Regions from separate parts of the Homo sapiens genome. Here region 2 is linked to region 1. The links come from fine-mapping of genetic effects on gene expression. A gene starts in region 1. The other region holds a variant in brackets. All regions are shown on one strand. Distances are from middle to middle. Region 1 holds the start of WFS1 (wolframin ER transmembrane glycoprotein). Region 2 overlaps LOC124900653 (a long non-coding RNA gene).

Region 1 (5,000 bases):
AGGACACAGGAGGGAGAGGCTGAGTGAGCAGCGAGGCGGGTCCCTGAGGGCCCGAAAGAATGCCGGCTCCTGGCTCGGGAGGCGGACCTGACCCGATAGCCCAGAGGGAAGTGGCAGCTGAAGAACCAGCAGGGCTGCGTGCAGCCAGGCCCGGATCGGGACCAGGGAGGAGCCTGGGGGTCGTCCAGGGAGAGGCGAGGGTCCTGAACCAGGGCAGGCATCCGAGTGAGGCTCAGGAGCCAGGAGAGACCCAACTGGGAGTGAGGAATGAAGGGCACAGGGGGTGGTCTGGTTTGTGGCTGGGGCTGGCTGGCTGTGGTGGTACCACTTCCGGAAGTAGGGAAGTGGGAGGGGAGGGGAGCCGTGTAGGCATAAAGCTCCCGACCTATTATGATTCTTATTGCCACCGTCAAGGATGGGTGTTTCGGGTCTGTCTGGCAGTGCAGACATCTCTGGGGGTTGAGACTGAGCTGAGGTCCCCTCTGTGACCAGCCCCAGAAGCCTGTCCAGCACTGGTCCGGGATGGGCAGGGGAGGCCTAAGTCAGAGACGCCCTCCATGCTCTTCCATCCTGGGAAAGAAGGTGAGATGGGGTCTCCCAGCCAACTTTTCCTGTGTCTGCGAAGGGAGGACAAACCAGCAGGTAGGGAAAAGAGGCTGAAATGTGGAGAAGCCTCCCTCCAAATCCCTGGTTGGATACAACGGAGACCCCATGGGAATCACAGACCCTTGGACACAGAAGTAAACAGGTGGCGACAGTGACAAAGGTGGCCTCTGGGCTTCCCGTGGGCTCCCTCTCCTGCTGCAGAGAACAGGCAGCCAGCACATGGGGTACCCAGGGCACAGCTCCTTGAGTGATGGATGCTGGCATAAGAGAAAGCCCTTTACAAACTGCAAAGCCCTGGGCCAAATGCCAGGGGTCACTGTCCAAGGTGAGGAGAGACGGGGCTGCTTCTGGAGAGATAGGGCAGAGGCCTCACACCAGGCTCTGCCCCATCAGCTTCGTGGTCCTGGGCTGGCACCAAACCCTGCTGAGCCTCAGCTTCCTGGGGTGTCAAACGGGGACTATAACTTCTCCGCCTAAGGCTACTGAGAGGGTTAAATCTGGGTGGTGGGGGGTTGCACAAATGCGACTTCCTTGGAATTCATAACATCATCTGCTAAGTGGGTGAGAGGCCAGGGCGCCATCACATCCAAAAGGGCTGGGTAGGATTCTCCAGAAAGTTTTCGTTGATCAAACAAAAAGCTAATGATCCAGAGGGTGGAGTTCATACGAGGCAGGGTCCAGGTGCTGCCACTGAAACCCCTCAACTCTCTACTGAGGGGCCCCGAGAGAGAGAGGAACTGCCACAGCGCTCCTAAGTGGGCTGTGGGGATTCAGAATGACCCCTAAGCTGCCCCTCGGGCGGGCCGGGTCCCCCTGGGGGACTGAACCCCCCTTCCCCCCCACAACACCTCCCGGGGGCCCAGGCGCGTTCCAACGGCCGGGCGGGCACCGAGGGCGGCCGTGGGTCCCGGGACCGCGGGGGAGGGGCATGACGGGGCAACTCGGGGGGGATGGCGCGGGGCGCGGGGAGGGGGCCTGCCCGCCGGCCGCTCCGCCTCTCGGGCCTGCTGTCCCGCCCGCGGCGGGGCTCCAGGCGACAGCGCGCGGGGGACCGGGGCGCGCCCCCCGGGTGACCCGTTCGGGCCCGGAACAGGGGTCGCCTTGCGCGTTGCAGAGCGGGCGGGACCCCCGGCCCTCCAACTTCGGGGACCTTGTCGGGACTTTGGGGCCAGCCACCCATCAGCTCGGAAGGGGAAACTGAGGCCCGAAGAGGACAGTGCCTCAGGGCTCTTGCCCGCCTCCTGCGCGCTGCCCACAGCCACCGCGCCACTGCCCCAGCGCCGAAGTACTCACCGGCCCGTGAGTGGGCCGCACGCGGCGCTGCGACGCCCTGGGGCCTCTGGGCCGGCAGAAAAGTTGTTCGGGAGCAGCTGAACGCGGCGCAAACGGGAGATCTGCGGCCGCGGGGGAGCAATCTGCACTCGCTGCTGAAGAGCCGGCTAGCGCGGCCTTCTGCACGAGGGGGCGGGGCAGGGGCGGGGCCTTCGGCCTCCCTCCACTCCAGACGCGGCCCCCCGGATGCGGCGCCAGCTCGGCCTGCTGAGTGGCCGGTGTAGCCGCCAATCACTCCACATCTCCGCCAATCACGGTGCGCCTCGCCTAGCTGCGGCCCGGCACTCCCCCTGCGTGGTTGGGCCCGAGGGGCCAGAAGGCGGGTCCGGCTCGCCCACAGCGAAAGTTTCCGAGCGGACTCGGGCCCCGGCCCCGCCCCCGCCCCGCCCGCGGAACGTCCAGTTGCTTAGCGAGGCCGCTCGCCTTCTCCTGTAACAGGTGGTTTGGACCCGTGGAAAAGGCTCCGGCCACCTTTCATCCACCACTCCGGCCTCAGCGTCCCCAACTGCAGATTCATTATATTTGCTGTTGCAATATTAACACACGTCTTGAGCGCCTATTCCGGCGCTGCAAGAGAGTCTAAGGGCTCCCCTAATAACAGCAGCAGAGATGGAAAAATGGGGCCTGTTTGAAACGAGTGTCTGCAGCCAAGTACTGCTTTCAGTGCCCAGAATCAAATGCAGTGTAGCAAGCTTTTCACACGGTGACTGTGGGATTCCTTTAAAGTGTGTGTTAGCCCAGGGAGTGGGCAAGGCTCAGGCAGTTTGGAGACTCTGGGAGTTTGGTTCCTGTCTGGGAGGCGTGGTTTGGAGATGAGGGCGAGGGTCTATCCTTGAGAGGCCCTGGGGAACGTGAGACCCTGCCTGCTCTGTCTCTGGTCCCCACAACCAACCTGAGCTACCTGTCCTAGTTATCACAGCAGAAACTGGGGCTCGGAGTGACTGTCAGAGATAATGCTTACCAACATGTTGGGAGCAAATATTCCAGATGGCTTTGGAGATGAGTTCTGAACACACTACTTCGGAGGACTTTTGTCAAAGCGGCGTAGTTCATGTCAGTCACCTCATTTGATTCTCCAGCTGCCCCCACTGCCCACCCCCGATCCCCAATGTTCACGTGTGACCCTGTGAGGCTCACAGAGGAAGGAAGAACACCTGCCGTCAGCCTCGCCTGCTCTGTCCAGGTTGGCTTAGGGGCTTTCACAGCTTTCAAGGGCCCCCCTAGTGACCCAAGGAGGGAGGTGGCACTGAGCCCATTTTTTATTGATGTGAAAATTGAGGCTCAGACATAGTTATTTGCCCAAAGTCTTGAAGATGTCTTTCCACCTTATCACACACTAACTGTAGAAAATTTGGAGAATTACTAAAAGTAGAAAGGAGAAAAAAAATCACTCAAAGATGATCACTGTTCACATTGTGAGATTTATGCACATTTAAGAAAATAATAAATATTAATGTGAACACACAATCACAGAGAGGCTGAAGCACTTCCCAAACCCTTTGCAGGGGCTCATTAAGCAGAGAGAAGAGGACAGATTGAAAAGTTCCTCCTGTGGAGGTCTAAGGGAAGAGAGGAAGTGCAACAAAAAATCTACAAGATGGCTTAAGGAGCCTCTATCAGAACACAGCAACACTGAACATACTCCACGGAGCTAAGAGACTGAAAAAGCAACAGGCAAATTCAGAAAGAGAAGAGTGGAGGTGAGGACAAATGAGCAAACTGGAAGATAATGTGGAGTAAATGCTTCATGATGTAGAGGAAAAGCACATGAAAATCATCAGGACAAAAAGCAGAGACTGGAAAGACAGTTCCAGGAGGTGTATTGCACAAAGGACAGGTACTCCAGGAAGAGCTGGAGGGGAAACAGAGGTGAGCAAAGTGCCAGGAGAACGTGTCCCTGGAAATCCCAGATGCCAAGGATAAAGAGACGGTCTTGCAGAGTTCCAGAAAGAACAGGTCACATCTAAGGGGAGAAAAGTTGAAGTGGTTCCTAGGGGACTTTGGAGCAATGTCCAGGGACTCTGATGATAGGATCAAGGATCCTTACCATGGCTACTACAGGATTCATCTATGTGGACAAAAGAGAGAAAATATCCACTGTGGCAAGACAGAGAAAGGACCTCAGTGATGTCCCCTTTCAGAGGAAGATATTCAGAGTTCCCCCGTCACCGAGACAGTTCAATCACAGTAGAGATTTCAAGATAGAGCAAACGCTCAGAACAGGAAGTGGTGTTAAGCAATGACCCTTGCAAAATATACAGTATGGATAATCCACATGTGCCTGTGATTTTGTACTAGCAGTGCCACATAAGGATTCTTAAAACATAAGCTACATGCTTCAAGAGAAAGTTGTATTAGCCTGGAACTAAAAAAAAAAATAGAATCTTATCACAGAGAAGTCAGAATATTTTAAGATCACATTTGGTTGAGGGGAGAAGGAGGAAGTAAAAGGATCTGATTTGGTGAGTGGGGAAGGAAAGCCTTATTGGTGGTTGGGAGGGGTGCTTCATTACCATTTACTTTTAATACATTAGCAGGGAAAGATTGGTTTAATTATGACTCTCAGCTGGGGAAGGAAAGCCTTATTGGTGGTGGGGAGGGGGCTTCATTACCATTTACTTTTAATACATTATCAGGGAAAGATTGGTTGAATTATGACTCTCAGGAATTGGAAAGTAGCAACTCACGGGAAAGAAGCAGAGTAGAACTCCTGAATTACTAGGTAGAAGTTGGGGGAGGGGTGGAGGGAGAGTAAGGAAGCAAAATTAAGGGGGAAAGTAAATAATAGCAAGAACAATAAGCTTAATAATAGTAAACATAAGATGAGATAAAATAAATAAAGCCATGGCTACCCGCCTTCGTAACACGGTGAATGGGCTGAATTTCCCATCCAAAGTCTGTAAGATTGGGGCAAAAACTAAAGTCCAGTTAAGCGCTATTTACAAGAAACACACCAAAAATATTGAGAAGTAGAAGATCACAGCAGACATTTGAAAAATGGCAAATTACTATTGATAAGGAAGAACGCATGATGGAAAGCATTCACGGGAAGAGTGGTATTA
Region 2 (5,519 bases), 360 kb before region 1:
CTTTGTTTTCTCTTTTATTTATTTCTTTCGAATTGCTTTTTCTTTTTTTTTTGAAACAGAGTTTCACTCTGTCGCCCAGGTTGGAGTGCGGTGGTGCGATCTCGGCTTAGTGCAACCTCTGCCTCCCGGGTTCAAGCAGTTCTTCTGCTTCAGCCTCCTGTAGCTGGGATTACAGGCACCCACCACCACACCCAGCTAATTTTTTTATTTTTAGTAGAGATGGGGTTTTGCCATGTTGGCCTGGCTGGTCTTGAACTCCTGACCTCAAGCAATCCACCTGCCTTGGCCTCCCAAATTGTTGGGATTACAGGAGTGAGCCACCATGCCCAGCCTCTTTCATTAATTTCTGTTCTTATCTTTATTATCTCCTTTCTACTTTCTTTGATTTATTCTGTGCTTTTTAAAAATTTTCTTAGGTGAAACTCAACTCATTAATGGGTTTTTTTTTTCTAACATAGCATTTAAGATCTTAAATTCCCATCAAGCATGACTTTACTTGCATCACACAGCTTTTGATATTGGCATTTTCATTATTTAGTTCTAAGTGTACTTTTATTCCAATTATGATTTCTTGATCCATAAATTATTAGAACTGTGCTTTGGCCAGGCGCAGTGGATCATGCCCGTCATCTCAGCACTTTGGGAGGCCGAGGCAGGCAGATCACAGGAGTTTGAGGCCAGCTTGGCCAACATGGCGAAACTCTGTCTCTACTAAAAATACAAAAATTAGCCAGGCGTGGTGATGGGCACCTGTCATCCCAGCTACTTGGGAGGCTGAGGCAGGAGAATCGCTTGAACCCAGGAGGTGGAGGTTGCAATGAGCCGAGATCGTGCCACTGCGCTCCAGCCTGGGCAACAAGAGCGAAACTCTGTCTCAAATGAACAAAAAACCAAAAACCAGAAAAAAAACCCAAAACTGTGTTTTAAAAATTTCAACCACATTAGAGCTGTTTATGCTCTTCTATTACTGATGTCTAACTTAATTGTATTCTTCTTAGAGATGGAGTTCGGTTTGATAGTGATTCTCTGAAATTTGTAAAAATTTCGGCCTGGGCAATTGCAGCACACTCTGTGTGTGTGCTTGAGAAGAGTGAGCATTCTGTAAGGCTGGGACCAGGACTTTATGCACATCCACCAACTCCCGCCTCCCCCAATGTTGCAATAGCTTCCTGTTTTTGCCTCATTCACCTATAGTGCAATCTCTATGTAGATTCCATTTCTTTGGTGCATTGCAGAGTTTGTCTGGATTCATTTTTCTTTCTCTTGAGTGAATTATTTATAAATTTAGAGATTCTTTAGAAATTGTTGAAGTCAAAGATGCAATTTTGCAAACCAGTTTGACTGTGGGCAGCCCCAGGGCATCATTAGCTGTAGCCTGAGAACAAACACAGGTGCAAACAAAACCAGGGCGTTTCAGCTGGTAAATGCTGCCATGAGGCAGAACTTGCTTTTCCCCAGGCTGGAAATTGGAGAACAGTTTGTCCTGGACCAAGTGATGAAAGGCAGGGCGACATGGGGGAAGAATTGGAACTCCCAGTCCTATGGCTCAGCTGTAAATTCTGCAGAGTAGAGCAGAGAAGGGATTGTTTTGTTCCCTCTTGGGAGAGGACGTGATGCTGAGGGCCCAGTGTGAGAGGCTTTGGGCACAGAGCGACCTTTAATGATTCCCAGAGGCAGCACAGCCCCTGGACACCTGGGCGGCCTCCAGGGAAGGATTAGAGCTGCCTGCACATGTGTAGTCCTAGTGAGACGGCAGGAGGCGGGACTCTGGAGACAGGGCTCAGACATCAGACCAGTCTGAGGACTAGCTAAACAGGGGAAGAGGTAAAAGCACCTCTACAGAATCCATGCCCACTGACAACACCCGGACATTACTGCCACTTTCCATGACAACAGCCTTATGACCCAGAAGTTACCACCCTATTTCTAGAAATTTCTGTATAATCTCCCCCCTTAATTTTCACATAATTAAAAGTGGGTATAGGCCGGGCATGGTGGCTCATACTTGTAATTCCAGCACTTTGGGAGGCCGAGGCGGGCGGATCACCTGAGGTCAGGAGTTTGAGACCAGCCTGGCCAGCATGGCGAAAACCCATCTCTACTAAAAATAACAAAAATTAGCTGGGTGTGGTGACACGTGCCTGTAATTCCAGCTACTGGGGAGGCTGAGGCAGGAGAATAGCTTGAACTCAGGAGGTGGAGGTTGCACTGAGCTGAGATTGTGCCACTGCATTCCAGCCTGGGTGACAGAGTGAAAGTCTGCCC[G/A]GAAAAAAAAAAGCAGGTATAAATATGACTGTGGAACTGCCTCTGAGTTGCTACTCTGGGCACATTGGCTATGGGCAGCCCTGCTCTGCCAATGAGTGATACCTCTGCTGCTGCTGTACTCTGCCGCTTCAATAAAAGTTGCTAACACCACCGGCTTGCCCTGAAATTCTTTTCTGGGTAAAGCCAAGAACCCTCCTGGGCTCAGCCCCAATTTTGGGACTCACCTGTCCCTACTAGGGGCACCTGTTCAACATTGCTGGTCCTGGGAGCAGATGCAGAGGCTGAGCTGTGCCACCGCCTGAGATGGGGAGAAGCCTGGTGCTATGGACCGAATGTTTGTGTCCCCTGCAAGTTCTTATGTTGAGATCCTAACCACTAATGAGATGGTATTTGGAGATGAGGCCTTTGGGTGGTGATTAGGGTTAGATTTGGTCATGAGGGTGGGGTACCTATCACAGGATTAGTGCCTTGTAAGAAAAGATGCAAGAGGTCTTACTCTCTACTTTCTGCCATGTGAGGCTACGACAAGAAGACTGTTACTGGCCAGGTCCAGGTCCGTTCTGCCCATGTGCAGTAAATCAATCACTATGACATGGGTTCTGCAAAAGAAAAGATACTTATTCTCAAGGGCACCAGGTGAAGATGTGGGAAAACAGCTCTCAAATCCACTTCTCTGAAAATAAGGCTTAGGGATATTTATGGGTTAGAGAAGTGGGGTGGTTTAAGTCTTGGGGAAAGGTGATTGGCAGTGGGGAAAAATAAAGTAACAGATTCATTTTGCACAAGTGTAGTCAGGGTTCATGACATTTCATAGGACCTATGTACAGAAAATGGTGGTGTTAGCATGATCTGAGGGTGGAGTATTTGGCCCTCTGATGTCCAAAGGCCACCTCTCAGGCACTTGCGCAGGCCCAGTTGAAGAGTTGGTGGTCTCAGCTGGTTTGAACATGACAGGAGCTGGCCCAAGTTCCTGAAAAATAACTGAAGTAACCATTACCATGGTGACCTATAAATGCTATCTATAAAGTAGCCAGTAAAGGTCAGGTGCAGTGGCTCATGCCTGTAACCCCAGCACTTTGGGGGACCAAGGTGGGAGGTTTGCTTGAGCTCAGAAGTTTGAGGCTTCAGTGAGCTATGAACATACCACTGCACTCCAGCCTAGGCAACAGAGTGAGATCCTGTTTCTTAAAAAGTAAAATAAAAAATACAGTAGTCAGTAAAGGTTTAAGTTTTAGAATTCAGTGATGCATACTTCAGCTACTGTGGCCTTCAGCTTCATGGAAAAAGGAAGAAAAAATAACAAAAAGCAAGTGACCCAAAGCAAGCAGGGTAAGCAGATCTCATCAAATTAACCACTCAGTTTAAAGATGGCCATTTGCAAACCAGGAAGACAGTCCTCACCAGCCTCCAGATCTGGTAGCATCTTACCCTTGGACTTTCTGGGCTCAAGAACTATGAGAAATAAATGTTTGTTGTCTAAGCCATCCAGTCTGGCGTAATTTGTTATATCAGCCTGAAGAGCCTAATAGCTGGTGTCCGTCCCTAGGGAAGTCATAAGCAGACTGGCTTCCTCTCCTTTGCCCTTTGCTTGCTGTGGGCCTGAAGTGTCTAAACTGCCATGCTTCCTCCACTTTCTGTTTGCTGCTTCTCCAGAGACTTGAATAGCTTGACAAAACCAAAGCCTGAAGTTATAAATGGATGGGAAGAATGGGAATGTACACATGGTCCAAAGATTTTATCTTGCTATGGGAGAAAGAGGAAGGAGAGTGGGCAACAAAGCCATCTTTGTGGTGGTGAAGGATGATGATTATTTTATTTTGTTATTCCAGAAAGGAAATAGAGGCTTATTTGTAATTATTATGCCTAAAACAATCCAGAACAAAACTACTAAAAAAATTGAAAAGACTAGTAGAACTTTCAAAGTAATGAGGAGAAAAAAGAGAATAAAATAGGACTCTGGAAAATTGAAAAGAAAAGGGAAAATGAGGAGAGAAAACAATGAAGTAAAATGCACTATAAATAGAAAAGGGAACAAATATTTAATAAAATCCAATCATGGCTGGGCACGGTGGCTCACGCCTGTAATCCTAGCACTTTGGGAGGCCGAGGCGGGCAGATCACGAGGTCAGGAGATCGAGACCATCCTGGCTAACATGGTGAAACCCCATCTCTACTAAAAATACCAAAAATTAGCCGGGTGTTGTGGCAGGTGCCTCTAGTCCCAGCTACTTGGGAGACTGAGGCAGGAGAATGGCATGAACCCTGGAGGTGGAGCTTGCCATGAGCCGAGATGGTGCCACTGCACTCCAGCCTGGACAACAGAGCGAGACTCCGTCTCAAAAAAAAAAAAAAAAAAAAAACACGAAAAAAACAAACAAAAAGAACCTAAAATCAAGGTATGTGCTATATATAAGAAACACACCTATAATGAAGTGACAAGGAATGTATAAAAATTAAGGAATAAAGCACAATTTAAGGTTAAAATACGAAACAAGAGGAGCATTGTGTAATGATAAATATGACTTACAAAGAAGTTATATATTTCAGTTATCTAGTGCTGTGTTCATGACACCCTAAATTTTTTTCTTGAGACAGGTCTAAGTCTGTTGCCCAGGCTGGAGTGGAATGCCATGATCATGGCTCACTGCAGCCTTGAACTCCCAGGCTCAAGTGATCCTCCCACCTCAGCATCCTGAGCATCTGGGACTACAGGTGTGCACCACCATGTCTGCCTAATTTTTTTTTTTTTTTTTAAGAGACAAGGTCCCACCATGTTGCCCAGGCTAGTCTTGAACTCCCGGGCTCAAGTGATCCTCCCACATTAGCCTCCCAAAGTGTTGGGATTACACGTGTGAGCCACCACACCTGGCCCAAATCTTATGGTACTTAGCACCATAACAATCATTTGTCACAATTCTGTGGGTTAGGAGTTCGGGCAGGCCTCAGCTGGTTGGTTCTTCTGCTTCATGTATAGTTTATCACCTAGAGTCACTCACTCTGCTGGGTTGAGCTGCTACCTGGAATGGCTGAAAAACCCAAAAAGGTCTCACTCACATGTCTGGGGTCTTAGCTGGGGTGTTGGAATGGTCAGAGGCATTCTCTTTCATTACCTTAGTGAGAAGGATTCATATGCTTCCTTTGGATGTAAGGAAAGCTGGGGAATGTGGACCCTGTCTGGGAAGCCACTTCTCAGCTAAAACTGTCATTTATATCATGGAGGGGAAGAATGGATGCCAGCAGAAAGCTAACTAGCC

What was found. PIP is the estimated chance that this variant, and not a neighbour inherited with it, causes the effect.
Region 2: its variant is the best candidate, but not a certain one, in a credible set for the expression of WFS1 in testis (GTEx, PIP 0.82).

Annotation. Positions count from the first base shown.
Region 1 is chr4:6,266,914-6,271,913 of GRCh38, reverse strand. It overlaps WFS1 (wolframin ER transmembrane glycoprotein), which reads right to left and starts at 2,064. Exons shown (of 8, transcript NM_006005.3): 1 at 1,900-2,064. RefSeq lists a silencer at 1,977-2,086.
Region 2 is chr4:6,629,383-6,634,901 of GRCh38, reverse strand. It overlaps LOC124900653 (a long non-coding RNA gene), which reads left to right. Exons shown (of 2, transcript XR_007058007.1): 2 at 1-3,749. Among named protein-coding and RNA genes, the nearest start is that of MRFAP1, 8.5 kb to the left of the region's middle. The variant G/A (reference allele first, on the strand shown) is at 2,266.